Linked DNA regions of Homo sapiens. The protein of the gene in region 1 purifies or fractionates together with the protein of each later gene. This does not show direct contact. Each region holds a gene or a part of one and is shown in the gene's direction. Other genes may lie near its edges.

Region 1 (3,658 bases):
TGTGTGTAATGTATTCTTACCTGCATGGATGTGTATGTATACTCAAGCACATGTAGTTTTGATCTTGAAATTTTTGTCGTATGTCAGTTTGTTCATTATATTCTTAGATTAGTATGCTGAGCTATTATCCCATTGTCAATAAAAATGTCAATAAAGAATAGATTTTAGGTTGGGCGAGGTGGCTCATGCCTGTAATCCCAGCATTTTGGAAGGCTGAGGTGGGCGGATCACCTGAGGTCAGGAGTTCGAGAGCAGCCTGGCTAACATGGTGAAACCCCGCCTCTACTAAAAATACAAAAATTAGCCGGGGGTAGTGGCACATGCCTGTAATCCCAGCTACTCTGGAGGCTGAGGCAGGAGAATTGCTTGAACCCAGGAGGCGGAGGTTGTAGTGAGTCAAGATCGCGCCACTGCACTCTAGCCTGGGTGACAGAGTGAGACTCCATCTCAAACAAACAAAAAAAGAATACATTTTCTTTTTGGTCTTGTTTACTTGTTGCAGGAGGCTAAGTAAATTTCTTTTATTTTGGAAGCAAGAAAACAAAAAGAAATTTTACTTGACCTTGAATATCTTCTACATAGAAAAAAAAAATTGGAAAATAAAGTTAAATAACTAACTGGTTCATTCAAACCACCATAAAAATACATAGAGGTCTGAACAATCTAGAGGGGTTGTTTTTCACCAAGCTGCTCCTCTATGTAATTCTGGAACCCTTTATTTAGTCTATATAGACCCCTAGCAATTGTGACTACCTGTCCCGAATCAGAAGCTCTGTGTTTAAGGATTTCACCCAAAACTTGCTGTTTATTTTGCTGGTTCAACTTATAAAATTGCTCAGCACAGCCAGAGAGTCTTCACTGGAAACAGCATGCCAGATGATTTATGAGATAATTAGGTACCTTTTTTGGTTTTTTTTTTAGAGTCAATTCAGAGTGATCCAAGCCATAACTTGTGCCATCGCCCCTTCTCCCTCAGTTTTCTTAAAGTCACCTTGATCTGATCCACTCAGAGATGCCAGAGAAATGCTCTTCCCTTTTGGAAACGACTAAATTGCATAGACTATCATTTTATTGTGCTAGGTCTAGTAAGTGACTTATTAATGTGGCATAGGGAGGCCCTTGTGGGAAGGTGGTTTACTCCAACACATTTGCCTGGCGCGATAATTATTCAGGACGTACCCACAAGTCACTCCTGAACATATTGTGCTATTAGTCAGCCTTTTTCTCTTAATTTGCAAGACAAGTCATCTGATTTTAATCACTGAATAAAATCTTCCCAAAGAAGTTGTGATCTAGAATTGTTTTGTATTGTTATCTCTTATTCCTTGTTTTCAACTTTGCACACACTTAGAAAAGTTTAGGGCCAACTGATGGAATTTAGGATATATAAAAAGGAGCTTTTGAGTTATTCTGAAGTTCATGAGAAAAAGAACAGGTTACCATTTTAAAAATGCTTACATTGCCTATAGTGTATATACACCAAGTAATTTTGTTCCAGTATATATTGCAGTCAAATGAAAGGATTTGAAATATTTCAGATTGTGAAAGTGCTATGTCAGAAAGCACTAGCATTCTAGATTTATAAGATGTAGAATGAGGTATATCCTAACCACATTATGTAAATTTTAAGGGAGTTTCAAATGTATTACTACATGTAATCTACGCCTTCTCACTTCCCCATAACGCTGTGAGGAGGCTATACATGCTCTGGTGACCAGGTTTTACAGATGAGGACACTAAAAGTCTGGGGTTTTGTGACTTGGTCAAGATCACACTTTAGTAGCTGAAGTGGATTAGAATGTAAGAATGTTTGCTCTTAGAAAAGGGTTTTCCCCATAAAATCATATTGGCTCTGAACTTTAAAAAAGAAAAAGAAAATAAACATTATATAGCTCTTCGGGTTGATGAATGTCACTGTATCTATATCTGGGTCACTGTGATTGAGTTAGACTTGCTGTGACTGACATTTGCTGAGAGGACCACTGAGCTGGGCCAAACACACCGCACAGAGAAATCTCCCACACTGTTCTGTTCCATGTCCGTTGGCAAGCTCAGGAATACGCTAGTTTAGGAAGGTAGTTTTTGCCTACAATCAAGCAGAATGTCTTTTAAAGAGAGAAGGTGAGAAAAGGATTGAAAATTATTTTCTTTCCTGGGATCTTAGGAATATATATTATATATATTATATTATATTTTATATATATATTATATTATATATATATATATTCATATTCTGGCATCCAGCCAAGAGTAAAATAGAGTATTTGAAAACATACCCCATGGCTATAGCTTAGGAAAGTGTAATTCCACTTCCTCCTTCCTCTCACCTCCCACACACGAAGATGTGTGTGGTGCGCGCATGCACGCACGCACACTCACACACACTCATCTTCTCAAATTAGTTAGCTGGCCTATTTCTGAGGTGTGACTCAGAGGAGACATTCTTGCAAGGAGTGACTTTTCCTTTTCCCCTGCCTCTGGAAGACATCAGAAGTCAGAAGAATTCAGAAGGAAAAGGCAGCTGACTAAACATGGGGTTGGAGCTTGGTGGATCTTATAAAACTTTCAAACTCTGGGAAAGTGTACAGGCTTTTTTAGAGTCTGATATACTTGCAATTAACTACAATCTGCAAGATGTTTAGAAACTTCAATTGACTAAACTGTTAATGTCACAAAACTAATCAATGATTGTTCTATTGCAGAATGAATTCTTAACTGAGGCTTTTCTTGGGTAACTTTATTGTGACATAATTTCAGACTCATAGGAAAGTTATAAGAACGGTACTAGGAATTCCTAGAAATACTTAACCTAGATTCACCAATTGTTTACGTTTTAGCCTGTACCCCTTCCCCTTCCTTTCCAGAGCACATGGAAACATCCTCTCCCTTTACCCCTTAACATCAGAGCATATTTCTTAAGCACGGGGGCATTCTCTAAAATAAACATAGTACAGTCATCAAAATCAAGAAATTTAACATTAATACAACTATCTAATTCACAGTCTGTAATAGAATTTTATCAACTAACCTAATGATGTCTTTTTGAATGTTTTTTCCCCCAGTGCAGTACCCAGTCTGGAATGCTGCATTGCACTTAGTGTCATGCCCTTTTAGACTCCTTTAAACTGAAACCAGTCCCTTAGTCCTTCTTTGTCTTTCTAAAGTTAATATTTTTGAAGAATACAGGCTGGCTATTTTGAGAATGTCCCTCAGTTGTAGTTTGTCTGATTTTCCTCATGATTTAAAAATGCAAGTTAAGTTTTTTGTTTTTTTTTTTCTGTCAGGACTATCACAGAAGTGATGTGTCTCTCTCAGGAAATCACATTAGAGACACATTGTGCTGGTTTGAACTATTATTACTGATGCTTCCTTTGATAGCTTGCTTAAGGTAGTGTCCACCAAGCGTCTCCATTGTAAAGTTACAAGGTTTCTCTTTAGGTAACTTTCAGGGAGTTTTTGAAACCTTGCAAATATCCCTTCCTCACCAAACTTTCACCCCCTGGATTTGGCATCCACTGATGATTTTTTAAAATAATTTTTTCCTTCAAATATTATTAGTAGGCAATCTACTGGAAGGAATAACTTTCCCTTCTCACCCATTTATTTATTCATTTTAAAAAATCAGAGTAAGGACTCAGAGATTGTTAATTTGTTCAAT
Region 2 (3,658 bases), on another chromosome or scaffold:
TATAAAGCCCTTCTACAGATCCCCAAGCTTCATGGATTCTGCGTTATAAAATCCTTGCTTTAGATAGTAAAGTTCTGAGTTCATCCACTGATTTTATATTTGAATTCTATAATGTATTTAATTTAGAAAGAAATAAAAAGCCCAAATAAGATAGATTCAATATGCGGTGGTGGGGTGGAGAACAATGGTAAATGGTAACTTACCTCTTTCTGTAGTCTAATATTTAAATCAAGTTATTTGCAAGGTAGCTGTTTAATCAAAGGATTTCAATAAAATGATACTATATAAATTAATACCAAGACCACACTTTGGGAACCAAAGGAGGCACTGCAGTTAATTTTAAGTGGTGAAATAAATTGGGGAAGGTAAATTGTGAAAACCTCTAGCTAGAAGGTAAAGATCCTGATAAATTATGTCTTTATGAAATAAACCAGGCTATGGTGATCCTTCTTTTATTAAACAGGATGAGACTTCAGCACTCAAGTTTGAAATAAGAGCAACAGGTTTTCCAGAGCCAAATCCAAGAGTAATTGAACTAAACAAGGATGAGAATGTTGCGCATGTAAGATTACCCTCTTAACTGCTACATTAAAATTATAGGAAAACACATTTCAAGGGTGTCTATAATTACTTCCTTCTGAGTAACTGAGTTGGGAAAGTAGAGTGTGACCAGCTCATGGAGGGCCCCCAATACTTGGTTGAGAGTTGGCATTTTCCACAACTGGCAGGAGGGAACAATACAGCAGTTCTTTCAGAGAGGTGAATTGGGCAGCAGTGAGAATTGAATAGATTGGAGGAAAAGTCATGGATACAGCCCATTACACTCACTGTTTCTGCTAAACAGTTACCAGTGTTTCCTGCAATTATATTAGAACCAGCAAGAAAATGGGCTGGGCAGTTCTAAATACTACTGGGGATTATGGCAGGGCTTTAAAGGAAATATAAGCAACGTTTTAAACTGATTTTTTTTTTTGGTTTTTGAGTTTTATTTTTCTTAACTCACGTAGGTTCTACTGGAAGGACTACATCATCAAAGACCCAAACGTTATTTCACCATAGTGATTATTTCAAGTAGCTTGCTACTTGGACTTATTGTACTTCTATTGATCTCATATGTTATGTGGAAGGTAAGCATTTAACAATTACCAACATTAGTCTACTAAAAATGACATTTTCTCAAAGCCAATTTGACTTCCAAGTTATTAGATTTAAATATTTCACTATTTGAATGTTAACTTTTTATGTTGCTCAGTACTGATCTCACATTTCTCTTCAACACCAAAGTCTTTCTAGAAAAATATGCATTCTTAATTTGTTTTGAAAGACAGACGTTCCTTTTAAAAAACCATTTGGAAAAGATTGCAAATTACACGGAATGTCAATTTTGGAGAGAATGTGGTGTGTATCACTGAGAATTTCTGCATTAAAAACAAAAATGTTTCTTTAACCCAGTATGTCCCCACTAATTTTTACTGATTACCTCTGTTAAACCTTTATGACTGATGTTACAAGGGATGCAGTTTAAGAAATATTGGTGTTAACTGCTTAGATATTAGAAATGAGTATAGTAGATAAGAGAGTGTTCATAACTATACACTAGTGATTATGTTATGCTATTTTCAGGCTGGCTTCTTTAAAAGACAATACAAATCTATCCTACAAGAAGAAAACAGAAGAGACAGTTGGAGTTATATCAACAGTAAAAGCAATGATGATTAAGGACTTCTTTCAAATTGAGAGAATGGAAAACAGACTCAGGTTGTAGTAAAGAAATTTAAAAGACACTGTTTACAAGAAAAAATGAATTTTGTTTGGACTTCTTTTACTCATGATCTTGTGACATATTATGTCTTCATGCAAGGGGAAAATCTCAGCAATGATTACTCTTTGAGATAGAAGAACTGCAAAGGTAATAATACAGCCAAAGATAATCTCTCAGCTTTTAAATGGGTAGAGAAACACTAAAGCATTCAATTTATTCAAGAAAAGTAAGCCCTTGAAGATATCTTGAAATGAAAGTATAACTGAGTTAAATTATACTGGAGAAGTCTTAGACTTGAAATACTACTTACCATATGTGCTTGCCTCAGTAAAATGAACCCCACTGGGTGGGCAGAGGTTCATTTCAAATACATCTTTGATACTTGTTCAAAATATGTTCTTTAAAAATATAATTTTTTAGAGAGCTGTTCCCAAATTTTCTAACGAGTGGACCATTATCACTTTAAAGCCCTTTATTTATAATACATTTCCTACGGGCTGTGTTCCAACAACCATTTTTTTTCAGCAGACTATGAATATTATAGTATTATAGGCCAAACTGGCAAACTTCAGACTGAACATGTACACTGGTTTGAGCTTAGTGAAATTACTTCTGGATAATTATTTTTTTATAATTATGGATTTCACCATCTTTCTTTCTGTATATATACATGTGTTTTTATGTAGGTATATATTTACCATTCTTCCTATCTATTCTTCCTATAACACACCTTTATCAAGCATACCCAGGAGTAATCTTCAAATCTTTTGTTATATTCTGAAACAAAAGATTGTGAGTGTTGCACTTTACCTGATACACGCTGATTTAGAAAATACAGAAACCATACCTCACTAATAACTTTAAAATCAAAGCTGTGCAAAGACTAGGGGGCCTATACTTCATATGTATTATGTACTATGTAAAATATTGACTATCACACAACTATTTCCTTGGATGTAATTCTTTGTTACCCTTTACAAGTATAAGTGTTACCTTACATGGAAACGAAGAAACAAAATTCATAAATTTAAATTCATAAATTTAGCTGAAAGATACTGATTCAATTTGTATACAGTGAATATAAATGAGACGACAGCAAAATTTTCATGAAATGTAAAATATTTTTATAGTTTGTTCATACTATATGAGGTTCTATTTTAAATGACTTTCTGGATTTTAAAAAATTTCTTTAAATACAATCATTTTTGTAATATTTATTTTATGCTTATGATCTAGATAATTGCAGAATATCATTTTATCTGACTCTGCCTTCATAAGAGAGCTGTGGCCGAATTTTGAACATCTGTTATAGGGAGTGATCAAATTAGAAGGCAATGTGGAAAAACAATTCTGGGAAAGATTTCTTTATATGAAGTCCCTGCCACTAGCCAGCCATCCTAATTGATGAAAGTTATCTGTTCACAGGCCTGCAGTGATGGTGAGGAATGTTCTGAGATTTGCGAAGGCATTTGAGTAGTGAAATGTAAGCACAAAACCTCCTGAACCCAGAGTGTGTATACACAGGAATAAACTTTATGACATTTATGTATTTTTAAAAAACTTTGTATCGTTATAAAAAGGCTAGTCATTCTTTCAGGAGAACATCTAGGATCATAGATGAAAAATCAAGCCCCGATTTAGAACTGTCTTCTCCAGGATGGTCTCTAAGGAAATTTACATTTGGTTCTTTCCTACTCAGAACTACTCAGAAACAACTATATATTTCAGGTTATCTGAGCACAGTGAAAGCAGAGTACTATGGTTGTCCAACACAGGCCTCTCAGATACAAGGGGAACACAATTACATATTGGGCTAGATTTTGCCCAGTTCAAAATAGTATTTGTTATCAACTTACTTTGTTACTTGTATCATGAATTTTAAAACCCTACCACTTT

What was found. The genes of interacting proteins can lie anywhere in the genome.
Region 2: the proteins of ENPEP (region 1) and ITGA4 fractionate together in Homo sapiens (co-fractionation; one large-scale study listed by BioGRID). This does not show direct contact.

The regions. Positions count from the first base shown.
Region 1 is NC_000004.12:110,482,560-110,486,217, forward strand, and holds part of ENPEP (glutamyl aminopeptidase), read left to right. Parts: intron 1-3,658. UniProt on the Homo sapiens protein: Regulates central hypertension through its calcium-modulated preference to cleave N-terminal acidic residues from peptides such as angiotensin II.
Region 2 is NC_000002.12:181,533,809-181,537,466, forward strand, and holds part of ITGA4 (integrin alpha-4 isoform 1 preproprotein), read left to right. Parts: intron 1-463; coding exon 464-562; intron 563-1,007; coding exon 1,008-1,127; intron 1,128-1,623; coding exon 1,624-1,719; 3' UTR 1,720-3,658. UniProt on the Homo sapiens protein: Integrins alpha-4/beta-1 (VLA-4) and alpha-4/beta-7 are receptors for fibronectin. They recognize one or more domains within the alternatively spliced CS-1 and CS-5 regions of fibronectin. They are also receptors for VCAM1.